Regions from separate parts of the Homo sapiens genome. Here region 2 is linked to region 1. The links come from fine-mapping of genetic effects on gene expression. Tissue or cell type: whole blood. Region 1 holds a variant in brackets; the other region holds the start of a gene. All regions are shown on one strand. Distances are between the middles of the regions.

What was found. PIP is the estimated chance that this variant, and not a neighbour inherited with it, causes the effect.
Region 2: PLXDC1 starts here. The variant in region 1 is fine-mapped to the expression of PLXDC1 in whole blood (GTEx, PIP above 0.99).

The regions. Positions count from the first base shown.
Region 1 is chr17:39,092,834-39,100,935 of GRCh38, forward strand. All of the region lies in intron 7 of PLXDC1 (plexin domain containing 1), which reads right to left. Among named protein-coding and RNA genes, the nearest start is that of PLXDC1, 55 kb to the right of the region's middle. RefSeq lists enhancers at 171-240, 6,114-6,715. The variant G/A (reference allele first, on the strand shown) is at 4,230.
Region 2 is chr17:39,147,391-39,155,492 of GRCh38, forward strand. PLXDC1 (plexin domain containing 1) reads right to left here and starts at 4,247. Exons shown (of 14, transcript NM_020405.5): 1 at 3,972-4,247. The coding sequence starts at 4,047. It overlaps TRC-GCA2-3 (tRNA-Cys (anticodon GCA) 2-3), which reads right to left and starts at 6,415; the gene lies at 6,344-6,415. TRC-GCA2-4 (tRNA-Cys (anticodon GCA) 2-4) reads right to left here and starts at 7,172; the gene lies at 7,101-7,172. RefSeq lists enhancers at 5,751-5,900, 6,273-6,779, 6,780-7,284 and a silencer at 7,161-7,230.

The sequences.
Region 1 (8,102 bases):
GCAGAGGAGTCCTGAATTGCCGTTGTTGCCAATTTCTGTGGTGTAAATACTTCCACGGTAGCTGACTTCCAGCTACCCTTTCAAAAAAGTTACTGAACATGGAGTTAGGAAGAGACATGTTCAGTTGCCTCTCACCCAGCTGCATACATGATCTCCAGCACACCCCTGCTGAGAGCTTCCTGATTTGTGTTTCTAAAAGAGTCAAAGGGAAACATTTACATTTCTTTCTTTTTTGTTTTGTTTTGTTTTGTTCGAGACAGGGTCTCACTCTGTTGCCAGGCTGGAGTGCCGTGGTGCAATCACGGCTCACTGCAGCCTTGGCTTCGTGGGCTCAAGTGATTCTCCCACTTCAGTCCCTGCCCCCAGCTCCACCTCCCCCACCAAAGGCTCATGCCCTGGTAATTTTTTTTTATTCTTTGGTAGAGACAGGGTCTCCCTATGTTGCCCAGGCTGGTCCCAAACTCCTGGCCTCAAGCAATCCTCCCGCCTCCAATTCCCAAAGTGCTGGGGTTACAGGCGCGAGCCACTGCGTCAGGCCACATCTCTTTACAATTTACCGAGCCCAGTTGTTTATTTAAAAATAAAAACATTTATTTAAAAATTACGGGCACAGTGGCTCATGCCTGTAATCCCAGCACTTTGGGAGGTCAAAGTGGGCGGGTCACCTGAAGTCAGGAGTTTGAGACCAGCCTGGCCAACATGGTGAAACCTCATCTCTATAAAAATACAAAAATTAGCCAGGCATGGTGGCACGCGCCTGTAATCCCAGCTACCCGGGTGGCTGAGGTAGGGGAATCGCTGGAACCCGGGAGGCAGAGGCTGCAGTGAGCCGAAATTGCACTATTGCACTCCGGCCTGGGCGACAGAGAAAGACTCCGTCTTAAAATATATATATATATATATAAAATTAAGCCAAAATCCAAAAGATGGAATGACTGTGTGTTTGTCTCCTAAAGAACCCTAAGTCTGAGAGAGGAGGCCCCGTGGCAAGCCTCGTAAATATCAGGCAGTAACTGCCGGGTGTCTACAGAGTCACTGTGGCTCTAAGAGGAGGGAACCCTCCATGGAAAGCTGAGGTGGCGAGGGGTTCACAGAGCCCCGCACACGCATGTGCACACCCCAGCCCTCCAAGACACACACACACCTGCACATGAGCACATACTCATATGCACACACATATGCAACCCTTTGACACAAGAAAGACCCTTTGCCAAGCCCGAGTGGGATCTGACAGAGATTGGAGGATGGGCACCTTTTTGTAATTCACATGCCCAGAGGTGGCACCAAGGCCACCTGTGCTGCAGGTGCCCCTGAGTGATGCCAATGGCCATGAGAAGGTGGCCTGGGCTCTGAGTAAGCCTGGGGGCCTGGGAATATCTAGATGAGGATGGAAAGTTTGAAGCAGACTTTCACACACCATCCCCACTCATTACTCCCAGGGGCCATCTCTCCTTCCCCTTCAGCACCAAAACGCAATGGGATCAAAAATAAACATGAAACTCCAAGTCTCCCATGTCCTGACTTCCAGGGTGCCTGAGGCCATAGGTTCTAGAGTCCAATGTCAACCTTTCTTGCTTCAACTGCCTCATACTTCAAGACTCAGCTCAAATGACGTCCCCTCCTTGAAGACTTCCCCCACTCTCAGGCAAAGTGACTGCCCCCCGACCCGGCCCCACTCTGAGTCTACAACTCCCTGAGCAATGTCCAGTGTCCCCCATTACATCGCTTGGTCAATATCTGCTCTCCTGGCCACTCCCGCAGCCAGACCACAAGCTCCGCTAAGACAGAGTCTGCATGGAATTTATCTCTGTACCTCATCCCCTAGCACCAGGCCTTGCACTTAACAGGACCTTAAGAAATGACTGTGAGTGAATGAATGGGTTACAAATAGTCATGAAAACCTCAGCAACTTATAACGTCAGCCCACAGCCCAAAGGAAGCACGCCCTCCCTCCCCAGCCCACCACAAATTACTGCCATTCTCAAAAGGACAACCCTGAAAGACCACAGTAAACCAGACATGCCGCCTCCTAAGCTAGATCTCAAAGCGGGAGGAGAGCTGGCTTTCAGGATTTCTCCACCTGCAAGGCTGCAGGGCAGAGCTTTCCCTCATCAGAAGGAAGGGGAAATGGGAGGGACAAAGGGACTCAGGGTGGGGCACAGATAGAGACTCAGACTTTTCAAGGGAACTGAGTTCGAGGATAGAGACACAAGTGGCAGCCAGGGAAGCCAAGTCTCCTAGAAACTTCACACCAGGCTCTAGGGATGGGTTTCCCCACCATCCGGGCTGGGGGGCAGAGTTGGGGATGTGCCCCAAGCATGGGTGCAGCCAGGGATGCCAGCTGTCCTCTGAAAATACAGTCCTTCCAGCGGAGTGGGGGAGGCTGAGTGGTGGCAGAAAGGGGGATGAGGGTGGGGGGTGGAACTATATCTCTAATTGAAACTATTTGCTCACTTCAACTGCCAGCTTGTACTTGTTCGAGTGTGGGTTTGGTAATATTTTTATTTTTTTAATAAAAGAATCCTTACGCCCCGCCCCCCCCCCCCAACCCCCCAAGCCTGGGTTATTTGTTTTGGATTGTTTCACCAACATCTGGAGCTTGCCCAAGACAATGACTTCCATCTCCATGACCAACAGATCCTTTCTGGAACCAAGACGCAGGCTTCCCCAGAGCACCATTTCTGGCAGTTTAAGGTGTTCTGTTTTATCTCTGCTTCCAGGCATCAAAGATTCAGAAATACTCAGGTCCAGACTTGGCAAACACTGCTGCCCAAACAAGAAATGTTTTTGTTTTTTGTCTTTTTTTTTTGGCGGGGGGGTTGTTTTTGTTTTGTTTTGTTTTTGTTTTTGAGACAGGGTCTTGCTCTGTCGCCCAGGCTGGAGTGCAGTGGCACAATCTCAGCTCACTGCAGCCTCCACCTCCCGGGTTCAAGCAATTCTCCTGCCTCAGCCTCCCGAGGAGCTGGGATTACAGGTGCCTGCCACCACACCTGGCTGATTTCTGTATTTTTAGTACAGATGGGGTTTCACCATCTTGGCCAGGCTGGTCTCAAACTCCTGGCCTCAAACGATCCACCCGCCTCGGCCTCTCAAAGTGCTGGGATTACAGGCGTAGCCACCATGCCTGGCCCCAAACAAGTAATGTTAATGGTTCAAGTGAGAGGTTTGCATGTCCCTTTGTGTTTCAATGCCAGATGCCCATGGGAGAGTGCTGGCTTGGCCAGAAGAAGTTAGGAGATGACAGGTCGATCCACAAACTCCCACCTGGAATGGGTGGTTACCGTATAAAAAAATCTAAGAGGTTGGGTTGGGAAAAAGTCTTCATGCATTCTTTTGTTCCTTGGCTCATGTGATTATTCATTCAATAATCACGAGTGGAGCCCCAGCAGGGGACCCTGCCCCACGGGGGAGAAGTAGGGGGGTCCCTCAGCATTGAAGCAAAGCAGAAAAAGGCAGAGAAAGAAGAGGCCAGAAATGACTCAGGGAGCAGAGTAGTGGGAAAAACAGAAGTGAGAAGGGAAAAGAGGGAAGGATGGGCCCCCAGATGGATTAAAAACTTCCAACGAAGGGCACTTTAAAGGATCCTTTATCAGAAAAGGCAAAATTGGCCAGATCCTCAGCTTCTCCCTGCACCCACTTCCTCACGTGGCTGCCCCTAGATCCCTTCTGTAGCCTGCTCTGGGACCCACCCCTCCCTTACCTGCAGCCTGGCAGGAAGGTACACACAGCTCAGGCCCTGACATATATCTGGACTCAAGTCTGCCTCGGAAAGGACAGGAAAGTTCCGGTAAAGGAGGAGGACCAGCATGTTGGGGCCGTCCAAGGCCATTCGGGGCCAGCCAAGGGGCAGGCTACATTCTGGAGCTCTTTGTAAGAAAATCCTCACTAACTGATCCCACTAATTCAGAATCCCTGTCAGTTTCGATGTTGGCAATGCTAAAGTTGCTTTTATACTAACCATGAAATAAAGAGTTTCTTAAGCAAATGAACAGAGGAAATAATATTGACTTCCGGCGGTCTCCCCAGCCACATAGCGGATACACTGTCCTGTGTGTTTTGAGTGCCTCTGCAAACAGATGCTGCTAATTGCACATGACTTTTCTTTTCACCAAAGATGCTTTGCAGACTCTGCTGAAAAGCCTGCGGAAGAGTTTATACGAGGAAGTACTGGTAAGAACTCTTGTGGTTTTCAGCCTCTTCTACCCTCTCCCCCAGGAGTGAGGCTGTGA[G/A]GAGTCCTCCCCATTGCACCTCCCATCCCCTTGCCTAGCAGGGGTGGGGAGGAAAGTGTTTAGAACCTGGGGGAGGAGAGTTTTCCCCAGACAGGGTTCAGTGGCTGGGGATTCCTAAATAGTGAGGAATCAAACTCCCCTCCTCACACTGCCCCAGGCAGGGAGCAGTCAAACCTGGGCACAAGGACAGTGACGCCACCCATTCTGTATGATCAGGTGGGCTTGGTCAATAGGATTATCCATGGTGATCATAGGGTCTGCAGACCAGATGGCTCTTCCTGAACTTCTGTTTCCTTTAAGCCATGATCATTTGGGGTTTACTATTACCTGCAGCTCAACCTAATCCAAACAAATTCCCTGCTTGCCGGATTGAATGTGAGACCCAAAGTCATCTGACCCCTTAGCCACATAAAAGCCATTTCTCCCCAGGAGCAGAGGCTGTGGCCCATTTTAAACCCCAATGAGGGCCATGGATACTGTCCCAGAAAAACGCATGGATGTGAACATGTTCCACTTGCATTTCAATACTCCACATACAGGCCTTACACGGTGGCTCACATCTGTAATCCAGTGCTTTGGGAGGCCAAAGCCAGAGCATGGCTTGAGCGTAAGAATTCAATACCACCCTATTTTATTATTTGTCTTTACAAATAATAAATAAATAAATAAATAAATAAATAAATAAATAAATAAGCTGGGCATGGTGGTACACATCTATAGTCTCAGCTACTCAGGAGGCTGAGGCAGGAGGATCGCTTAAGCCCAGAAAGTTGAGGTTGCAGTGAGCTATGATTGTGCTACTGCACTTCGGCCTGAGCGACAGAGCAAGACCCTGTCTATAAAAAAAAAAAAAAAAAAAAGGCCAGGTGCAACGGCTCACGCCTGTAATCCCGGCACTTTGGGAGGCCAAGGTGGGCGGATCACCTGAGGTCAGAGTTCAGGACCAGCCTGGCCAACATGGTGAAACCCCGTCTCTGCTAAAAAATACAAAAATTAGTCAGGCGTGGTGGCGGGCACCTATAATCACAGCTACTCCGGAGGCTGAGGCAGGAGAATTGCTTGAACCCAGGAGGTGGAGGTTGCAGTGAGCCGAGATTGCGCCATTGCACTCCAGCCTGGGCAACAAGAGTGAAACTCCATCTCAAAAAAAAAAAAAAAAAAAAAAAAAATCCGTATACAATTTTAAGATTCCCAGACTTCCTGAATTTTATGCTTGTTCCCGTAAGCTAAAAACCTCTGACAAAAAGGGATGCAATTTCCAAAACACTCAACTCCCAAACTCAAGTGGTGTCAGACCCCTGTTCTCACCTAGAGTCACAATAGAGCAGAGGACAAGGTCTATGCTATGTCCATTCCCTTCAGCGGTGCCCTAACCCCAGCAACTAGGTCCACTTTCTTGTAGTTACTCATTTTCTAAAAATGTTAGTGCCTGCCCACTGGGCTCACTGCTGGGGGCCATAGAGAGCCCCCAAGGAATTCACACCTAGCTGGGGAGGACAATAAGTTCTATGTTAAGAGTATCAGCATTTGTTCTCGCCACCACTAGAAAGAAAAGAAGAAGAAGAAAAAAGTATCAGCGAAGTGCCGGGGGGAAGAAGAGGAAGCCGTGAATTCCACTGCATGGCGGAGTGGTTACTTGCACAGCATCTGACCTGGGCCGCTGGAGAGGGAGAATGGTGCCAAGCAGTAAAAAAGATTGGAGTAAGAGGCGTTTTATACAAGGGGACTGTGTCATACCGATGTGGACAGCCCTTAGCATGTTCAGGGAACCCAGGGGACACAGACCAGAGCTCCCCAGGCAGAGGGCGGTGAGCGGAGGGAGGGTTTGGAAATGCGCCTGCGTGGTTGACTGCACCCAGCTGTGCCCGGCCTTGAATGCCACACTGAGGATTTTGACCTGACCTGTGGGCAGCAAGGAGTCAGAGAGTGATGTGATCGGATCTGATGGTGACAAGGAGGAACAGGAGACAGAGGGAAGGAGGACGAGGCTGGGAGCTGCTGGCAGTGTCTGGGGGTCAGGTGCTGGCTTTCACCTGGCAGGTAGACCCAACACCTCAGCACACAGCACCTGGAGTCAGACTCCAACCGCTCCCACCACCGAGATTTCCTCCTGATCCTGCAGAGCAGACATAGCCTCCCTGCTCTTTCAGGTGGGTTGTGCTTCCCCGCCCCCTTCACCCCTCATCTCTCTGGTTTGCTCTAAAGGGGCTTCTCATTCCAGAATCACAGAGGAGCCTCAGAGGCAGATGCTACCGGGGATCTGACCCCCTCTAATTCACCCTCATTCCACAGCTTGATCAGGCACACGTTTCCTGAGACTCTGCCTGGAAGAAGCCCTTGAGGGAGGTGCAGATGAAACAGACACATCCCTGCCCCGACAGTGGGCTCAGTAATGTACATGGGATGCAGGATAGGGAAGGAAATAAGGCACAGACACCAAGAACAGTCCCAAGAAGCAGCCTGGGGAGTTTGCACACCCCACTCTGTGGGTGTTTGGGGGAGCTGAGGAGGAAAAGATTCCCCTGGGTGGAATGGGAGTGGGTCAGTCTAAGAAAGGCTCAGTGGTGGACTCCAGGATTTAAATGGAGAAGATCTGGACTTGAATTCTTCCTTTCATAGCTGTGTGACCAAGGATAAGTCACTCTACCTCTCTGAACATTTGTGTCCTCATTTAGAAAGGGACAAATGTACAAACTCACAATGTTTGGGGAAGATCCAAGACACTGTCCAGCTTAGTGCATGGGAAAGAGGATTATAATCAGTGTGGTAGGCAGACGCTAGCATGGCCCCCAGAGAGCCTCTACGGTGGCTGCCTGGTATCCACACCCAGGTGCAATCCAGTCCCTGAGCGTAGACTGGATCTGTGACTTGGTTCTAGCCAGCGGAATGTGGCAAAAAAGATAGGATGTTACATCTAAAATTAAGCTATAAAAAGACCCTGGTTTGCGTCTTCCTCGCCCTCTGCTTTTGTCTCGCTTGCCTGCTCTGATGGAAGCCAGCTGCCATATCATGGGGAAGTTTACCAGGCAAGGAGCCAAAGAAGGCCTCCTTGGGGAACTGAATCCTGAATTCTGAATCCTGAATCCTGCCAAACCACATGAAAGCTCTGAAGCCGGTCCCAACCCTCCCCACCTGCCACCCCATCACGGGGGTAACTGTGACCCTGGCTAACACTTTTTTTCTTTTTTTTGAGACAGAGTTTCACTCTTTCACCCAGTGAAATCGTGAGTGAGTGGTGTGAGGAGTGAGGTGGTGCGATCTCAGCTCACTGCAAGCTCCGCCCCTCGGGTTCAAGCGATTCTCCTGCCTCAGCCTCCCAAGTAGCTGGGATTATAGGTACCCATCACCACACCCAGCTAACTTTTGTATTTTTAGTAAGGATGGGGTTTCGACATATTGGCCAGGCTGGTCTCAAACTCCTGACCTCAGGAGATCCCCTGCCTTGGCCTCCCAAAGAACTGAGATTATGGGCGTGAGCCACCGTGCCTGGCCGCTGGCTAACACTTCAGTCGCAGCCTGTGAAAGACCTTGAATGAGAGGTCCTGGCTGAATTGTGCTTTGCTTCCTGATCCATAAAAACTCTGAGATAATATGTTGCAGTTTTAAGCCACTAAATTCTGGAGCAATTTGTTATACAGCTGTAGCTAACTAATGCAACCAGGTGATACGGAGATGATTTAACAACTGGCTCAACACAGGCGTTTACCAACCAGTCAGAGCAGATGCTGCCTGCAGCCATGGAGCCAGGTCCTGGAGCCCAGGCTGTAATACTTGATAGAGGACTGGGAGCGCAGGGGGCTAAGGGGAGGGCAGGAGGGGTCGTGGGAGGTACGAGGGGGCTCAAATCAGCAGCAATTTGCCAACAAGAATGCA
Region 2 (8,102 bases), 55 kb after region 1:
ATGAAACTCTTTCTCTGCTGCCCCCTCGGTGTTGGTGTGTCAACTTGCTGCACCTTGGGCAACACACCAGTTAGGGTCACAGGACCAGCTTTCAGAGGGGCCAGGGAAGGCTCCAAACCCTAAACTGAAATCCTGCCTCCAAGTTACAAAGCCCCTAACCATACCCTCTCCCTTTCCTCTGGCAGGTAGGGACCCACTGAGGACCCTCACCTGGGGAGAGGGAAGGAGTCAAAGGAAGTGCAGGGAGGGACCACCAGGTAGCAGAAGGGAAGAGGGAGGGAGGGAAGGGGAGGGGAGGGGAAGGGAGGGACAGCAAGAAGAGTTCAGCTCTCTATGTGTGTCCCTTGAGGGGAGAGTCTGGGATCTGTGCCACCTCTGATATACTCACTCAGTCACTCACTCATTCATTCAATACACTTTTATTGAGTCGCAGGCACTGTGCTGGGTGCTGGGGGGACACAAGCCCTGTACCCAGGAAGAGTCTAGTTTTCTTCATGGAGACATACAAAATGAATCATTTGGTAAGGGCTATGAAGAAAATCAGACAGAGGAAAGGGTTGGGGTTGTTGCTACTCTACACAGAGCCATGAGGTGGGGCTCTCTGAGGAGGGTCCCCTTGAGCTGATTAAGACCTGAATGAGAAGAAGCCAGTTAGTTATCTGTCGATCGGAGGGGACGGCAGCTGGAGTGGGTTAAGGGGTGAATCTGGGGAGAGCTAGAGAAGATGGTGGGATGAGGGAGGGGCTGCCTGACCTCCATAAGTTCGCATTTTAGTCTCAGGTTGTTGGAGCCCTAGAGACAATCTGGTCCAACCTCCTTCCCTCCTTTTTTTAAAAAAAGATGGGACCTCGTTATGCTGCCCTCACTATGTGGCATGATCATAGCTCACTGCAGCCTCCAGTTCCTGGGCTCAAACGATCCTCCTGCCTCAGCCTTCCGAGTACCTGGGACTACAGGCGCACACCGCCATGCCCAGCTAATTTTTTATTTTAATTTTAATTTTTTTTTTTGACAGAGTCTTACTCTGTTGCCCAGGCTGGAGTGCAGTGGTGCGATCTCAGCTCACTATAACCTCTGCCTCTCGGGTTCAAGCTATTCTCCTGCCTCAGCTTCCTGAGTAACTGAGATTACAGGCATGCACCACCACGCCTGGCTAATTTTTACTAATATACTAATATTAATAATATTAATAACAATACTAAATATACTAATTTTTGTATATTTAGTAGAGACGGGGTTTCACCATGTTAGCCAGGCTGGTCTCAAACTCCTGACCTCAGGTGATCCGCCGGCCTCGGCCTCCCAGAGTGCTGGGATTACAGGCATGAGCCACCCTGCCTGGCCTAAATCATTTATAGACATGGGGTCTCACTATTTTGCCCAGGCTGGTCTCAAACTCCTGGTCTAAAGCTATCCTCCCACCTCAGCCTCCCAAAGTGTTAGGATCACAAGCATGAGCCACCGTGACTGGTGCAAGCCCCCATTTTATAGACGGGGAAACCTTCCTCAGAGAAAGGAGGAAGCTGTCAGGGTCACCAGTAGTTGGTATTGAGCCTGGCCTCCTGCAGGACTCCCAGGCCAGGATGCCAACTCTCGCTGCCTCTTCTTTATCTGTCATATGCACCTCTGGTTCCATCTGACCAGACTGTCAGTTCCCTGGGCCCCTGCTCTGCACCCCAAGGCCATTTTCCTGTCTGTCATCCTGGTCTCCCCTGCTGTCTGACTCTGTCTTTGGGCCACTCATCTCTCTGCTGCTGCTGTTCTAATGATAGATGAGGTTTCAAGGCTCTACCAAACAAGCCTGTCCATCAGGAGCGAGGGGAGATCTCAGCTACTTCCCAAGGCCCCCCACCAGCCCCACAAACCCAGAGCCTTGGGGAAGGATGCTAGCATCTCTTCAGGTCCTGCTCCCAGCTGCCCTTCCACTGGTCACAACAACTCCGCCATCAATCAGGTCAGGCTGCCCCTCCTTAGCAACTCTCCCCCAGAACGTCCTTCTCCTACATCTGGCCTCCCCAGACACCCGCTTCCTCCTCATAGGTCCTCCTGCCTGTGAAATCCCACCTGGCCTGTGAAAAGGGCACCGGACTGGGAGTCAACAGCTGCCGCCTCTGGCTTCTTACAGATTCCTTAAGTCTAACCTCTATCCCTCCTGCTGCAGAAAAAGTGCATTTCTCCTGGCTCAATCTCTGTCAAAGCCAAGAAGACAGGATAGCCTCTACTTAGAGAAGTGATTCAAGTCTCTGCCTGCCCCACTCTTCCTGGTCTCCTCAACCGTCTACTACCCCAACCCTACTCTGAAGGGGCCGCCCTCAGCCAGGCCCGGGTCTGGCCACTATCTCCCAGCCCATCCTTGTTACCTCCCAATTCCCCCTTCCCCAGCCCTCTCCGTGGTTCACACAATCCAGCCAAAGGTTCAGATCCTCCCCTCATAAACTCTGTTACACCCAGAGTTCAGAAGATCACACCAGGTTGAGGATTCAAAGGAGCCCAGAAATTATTCATAACATATCCAACTCTCTCCTGTTTACCTTGATTTTTTTAAAGTATCAGTTACCCATAAAGACCCTAACAAATATGAAAAGGAAAGGCAATTATAAAAGATCCTTCATTATTCCACGCACAAGAGTCAAAGATTTTGCCAACAGCCTCACTTTATAAATGCAAAAATAGGTCCAGAGAGAGAAAGTAACTTGTCTAAAGTCACACAGCAAGTGAGATGGCGGGACTAGAAGCCACGTCTCTGGCCACCCTCTGTGTGGTCTCCCTGAAAATTGGTGGTTCTCACCAGCAGCTTCTCGGTTCGTCAGCTCCACTGCCCTCTGCCCATACTTCCCACTGTCAGCCTCCTTCCCCTCCCACCCCCAACATACTCTTCTTCTCAATAGGGACCCAGGTCTGTCTCAGCTACATGCTGGGACCATTAAAGTCAAGAACATTGCCACTGACACTGTGCCTGGTGCCAGCACACTCCTGAGACACAGCAGGTCAACCACAGCACTCACCTCAACAGCGCCTCCCTCACCCCACCTGAGGGGCACCCATGCCAATGATGCACAGGTATCTATCTTCTTAATCATCTCTGCTGAGGGGCCAGGCTGCAAATTACCCATCTCCCCAACCCCAGAGAAAGTCTAGGTGCTTAGGGGAGAACAGAGACTATGAAAATTATACCATGAGGGATTCCAGGTAGATCTCAGAAAGGACTTCCAGGTGGGAGAGATGAGTTTGGAGAACTGGTAGGGGGGAAGAGGAGTGTGCAGAATGGGACGCCTCCCTCCACCCCCTACCCCAGTGCCCCATCTAGAGCCAGAGTAGCTGAAAGCCAAAGGCTGCCAGGGCAAATGGGAGCAGGTGTGAGGAGGGGGACTCTTGAGGCTGGGGGTGCAGAAGCAGCAAGTTGCTTCTTCCTGGGCCCACTGCCTCTCTACTGACACCAAATAGGCAAGGGAAGGTGACCGAATGGCTGCTGCCTTCCCAGGCAGAGACGCTGTGTCCCCACCATCCCCCTGGCTGCTCCCACCTATCCCTAGCCTGGATCAGCTTTGGGGTCGGGGGTGTGGCAGAGAAGAGGAAAAGAAGGCATGGCTGGGGCAGGGGCCTCCCCAGGCTCCCATCTCATCAGAATTCAGCCTTGCCTGGGGTGATCAGGGGTCCTGATGACTCTCCCGCTGTCCCCTTTCAGAGCCCATGGCCACATAGAGCCCCCTCTCCTAAGGTCCCTCCAGTATCCTTCCAGGAGAGAAGGAGAGGTCCGGGCATCGGTGTCTCCACCGTCACTCACACACCCTATGTGTTTGGGAAAGTGGGGTCCCTATCCACCTGCCCACAGCCCACAGCTCTCCTGGCCTCCTGCGGACAATGCCCCCCTCGCGGACATCGCCAGGCCGTCCACACCTGCCCATGCCCACACCTGACTGCCCGTCCCTCCCCGCCCCCGGCCCACCCGGGCCGGCTCCCGCCAGTCCTACCTGCTCCGGGCTGGGGGCTCAGCGCCCGGGCAGCCTCCCTGAGCACCAGCACCAGGAGCCAGAGCTCGCCTCGCATGGTGGGTGCCCGGACCTGCCCCCGGCCTGCTTGCTGCCCCGGTCCTGACGAGGGAGGGGGCCCTGGCTCAGGCTGCGGCCGCGCGGTCCCCGGGGCTGGCGGAGGGGCGGGCGGCGAGGAGACGGCGGAGCGCGGGGCCGGGCGAGCCGGCAGGAGCGGCGAGAGCGCGAGCGGAGCTGGAGGCTGCGGCCTCCGGGAGCAGGCGGGGAGCTGGGGGGGCCGCTGGGTCGGTGGGGGTGGGGGGGAGCTGGGGCAGGGGGCGGGGCGGGGGGCGCGGCGTCGTTGGGGGCTCTCCCGGCGCCTGCCCTCAGCCCTAACGGAGCGCTCCCCTAGAGCTCTGCAGCCGCTCCCAAGGCAAGGGGTGCAGAGTAGGGGACAGGGCGGGAGCCCCTCGGGCTGAGAGAACCCCTAGAAGCATCAGCCGCCCCGCGCTCCTCACTGAGCTCCTGGCTCCCTTTCCCTCCTCCGTTCCGCCGGGAAAGCTGCAGAGAGAAGGCCCGAGGACTGGACCCCTGGAAGGGACAGGCGCCCCATCCCTGGGTCACGGGCCCCTGACTGTTCCCCGCCCCCAGCTCCTCCAAGCTCTGCGACTTCCTGAGCTGTTCTTCGGAATTCTGTGCGTCTCTGATGCTTTGTCCTCCAGCCCCCACCCCCAGAAATCTCCCCCTGCAGCAAAGACCCCCAGCTTTTCTCCCCAAGAGGGGCCTGAATCCCACCCCCCTTCCATGACTCCACCTTATCCCTCCACCCCCCATTTCCAGCACCGATTTGCCCCCCAAGCCTAGCAGACGTGAGGGTGGAGGGGGCCTGGCTACCCCTTACTCTGCAACAGTCTGGACCCCTCCCCACGAGTAGGTAACCCAGGCCTCCTGCCTCTCTGGGGCCTCCAGGCCTACTCAGGGCCAGACCCAATCAATCTTCAGAGCCAGCCCCAGACGAGGAAATGGCTCACCCCACCTGTCACCACCTTCTGACAGGCTCTGGGGATAGATAATCTTTTTATTTTTTCTTCCAGGACAGAATAAAAATACCCGCAATGTAGGATATTTAATAGACGGCAAGGAATCAGGTCAGGACACGAAGATGCCTCTTCCCTCCCCTGACCTACTTCGTTCTTGTGACGGCAAGGAGCTGGGGCGCTGGAGAGTGGGAGACGGGGTGAGGGGGCATCCTGGCTTCTAGTGGGCTGGGGCCTAGGGACTAGAAAACCGCGGAGAGGAAGGGTGCGAACGCTGAGCGCCATTGGAGAAATTTTCCAGGAGGAGGGATATGGGCGGGGACAGGAGAAGGTACACTGTGGGCTGGAAGAGACGGATTCCGTGGCACTGAGGTTAAAAAAAAAAAAAAGAAAAGAAAAGAAAAAAAAACACCTAAGAAAGGAAACAACTAAAGGCTCTCTAATCTCTTAGAACGCCGGTTCCTCCTTCCGCCGGGCCCAGAGTCCCAGAGACTACCTCCTCCAGCCCTAAACCCAATGTCCCCTTACCGTGGAACAAGGCAAGGCCGGTCTGTAAATTCTTCTTGATGTCTAATTTAAATCCCAACTTGGCGGACTCTCAAACAGAATCAGATAGGCAGCTACCTCCAGCTGCAGCTACTTGCTGCCCTCAAGTGGCCACGTGACGAGCCACAACCCTCTTGTCCTGCGGGTTTCCTCTTTCCCCAGCCTGCCCACCCCCTGTCTCCGACCTCCTGCCTTCCTCGAGGTCAAGGTGAGAAGTCTCGGGACGGATTCCAGCTCCAGCCCCGGCGTCTTTGCACATTCCTCCATCTGGGGTACCTCGTGGTCTGTCTTACAAGAAGAGCTCAGGCTGAAACATAAACTTGTAAATAGTAGAAGCAAATGTGTAAATTTTAACGTAAGCCTCTAGAACTTGAGATCGTAATCACCTGCAGGGTGTGTGTGTGTGTGTGTGTGTGTGTGTGTGTGTGTGTGTGTGTGTATTTTGTTTGTTTTTTGAGACAGGTTCTCGCACGTTGCCTAGGCTGGAGTGCAGTGCTGCGATCATAGCTCACTGCAGCTTCCAACTCCTGGACTCAAGCGATGGGGAGCGTATATGAAAACACAGATTTCTGGACTCCACCCTCAAGTTTCTAATTCATTAGGTCTGGGATGAGGCCCGAGCGTACCCAGGTAATGCTGCTGGTCCCAGGACCACATTTTGAGAGCCACTGCTGTTGAATCCCCAGTTCCTTTCAGTCCCTCACTGCTCCTCGTCTGCCAGTAGGAGTAAAAGCAAACAGCTTAGGAAAAATCGACACCCAGGACAAAAACAGTATCTCGAAAAGGCCAAAGAGGGGGCACCCGGATTTGAACCGGGGACCTCTTGATCTGCAGTCAAATGCTCTACCACTGAGCTATACCCCCTCTGCCGGCAAACCGACCGCACGTAGTCGTTTAGTGGTATTGCTGCGCAGGCGCTGTGTGGCGTTCCCGAAGGGAAGTGGAAGTGGGGTAAGACGTTTACAAGAGATGGAAAAAATACAACTCCCAGAAGAATTACTCACTTGGAAGCAGGGGTTGTTCCCTGAAGCTCTGAGCTGAAGATCCCCACTGGCAGTATAAGAAAATATATTCCTGGGGTGTGGAAGGAGAAGTCTCTCGAAATATTTCACTTCGGGGGCGTCCCACTCTCCTGCCCTGCAGAAGACCCCTTGCCACGTCTCGGAGCTTCTTTCTCCCTCCCACATGCTCACGCGGCTTCTCCCGACCTGTCTTCCCCAGCCCAGCCCTTAGAAACTCAGCCTCCTTCCCGCCAAGAAAGAGCCAGGCTGACCTGGGGGTGCGCTCGCCTCCGCCCTGCCATTGCGAGGTTGAGCCACCCGTACCGTGTTCCAAGGGTCAGCCCGGAGCTCCTCGCCCTCACTCGCATTGCATTCTACCCTGGGTACACACACAGGCTGAGCCACTGGCAGGGGCCAGGACTCCATCCTCACTCGCCTGCGAAAGCAAAAAGGGTGGCAGGGCTCGAGACTCCCTCCCATTCCATCTGTGCGGGAACTCTTTAGAGGACCTCCGGAGACCAACAAAACGAGGTAACTCCGGAGCACAGAGGGGGCACCCGGATTTGAACCGGGGACCTCTTGATCTGCAGTCAAATGCTCTACCACTGAGCTATACCCCCGCCACGCCACTACGTTGTCATTAGAGTTAATTTCTATGGAATAGGGGTGTGGTCTTCATTTTCCCTTAAAGTTTTAATCTGAGGGTTGCGTCGGGATACCTACTGAAAAAAACACAAAATACAATGGGAATGGCTAGAACTCCTGAGTTCTTCCTTCATAGCCACGCTTTCGGAAAACCAACTAGATTAAGGAATCTTGGGCCGAGAGCGGTGGCTCACGCCTGTAATCCCAGCACTTTGGGAGGCCGAGGCGGGTGGATCACAAGGTCAGGACATCGAGACCTCCTGGCTAACACAGTGAAACCCCGTCTCTACTAAAAATACAAAAATTAGCCGGGTGTGGTGGCGGGCGCCTGTAGTCCCAGCTACTCGGGAGGCTGAGGCAGGAGAATGGCGTGAACCCTGGAGGCGGAGCTTGCAGTGAGCCGAGATCGCGCCACTGCACTCCAGCCTGGGCAACAGAGCGAGACTCTGTCTCAAAAAAAAAGGAATATTGGGTCCTCTATATCCGTGCCTAGACTCTCCCCCAAATGTCCACTGACTGGCTTGAGAAAAGGACTGTCCCCAGGACCGCCCCAGGTCCAGGGATGTACAGATGAACAGACTGGATCTCCATCTTGTCTCCTGGGCTTTTCCAACCCCAGGGTCGCTCCTCCCCTTCTCTCAAACCAAAAGCCAGTTTGAGGAACAGACAGAGGAGAAGGCTGAAATAAGAGGTAAGCATTTTTCAATAGCATTTACTACAGCCTTATAAAAATCCTAATACAGTATTTTTTTTAAAATCCTGGCCGGGCGCGGTGGCTCGCGCCTGTAATCCCAGCACTTTGGGAGGCCGAGGCGGGCGGATCACGAGGTCAGGAGATCGAGACCATCCTGGCCAACATGGTGAAACCCCATCTCTACTAAAAATACAAAAAAATTAGCAGGGCG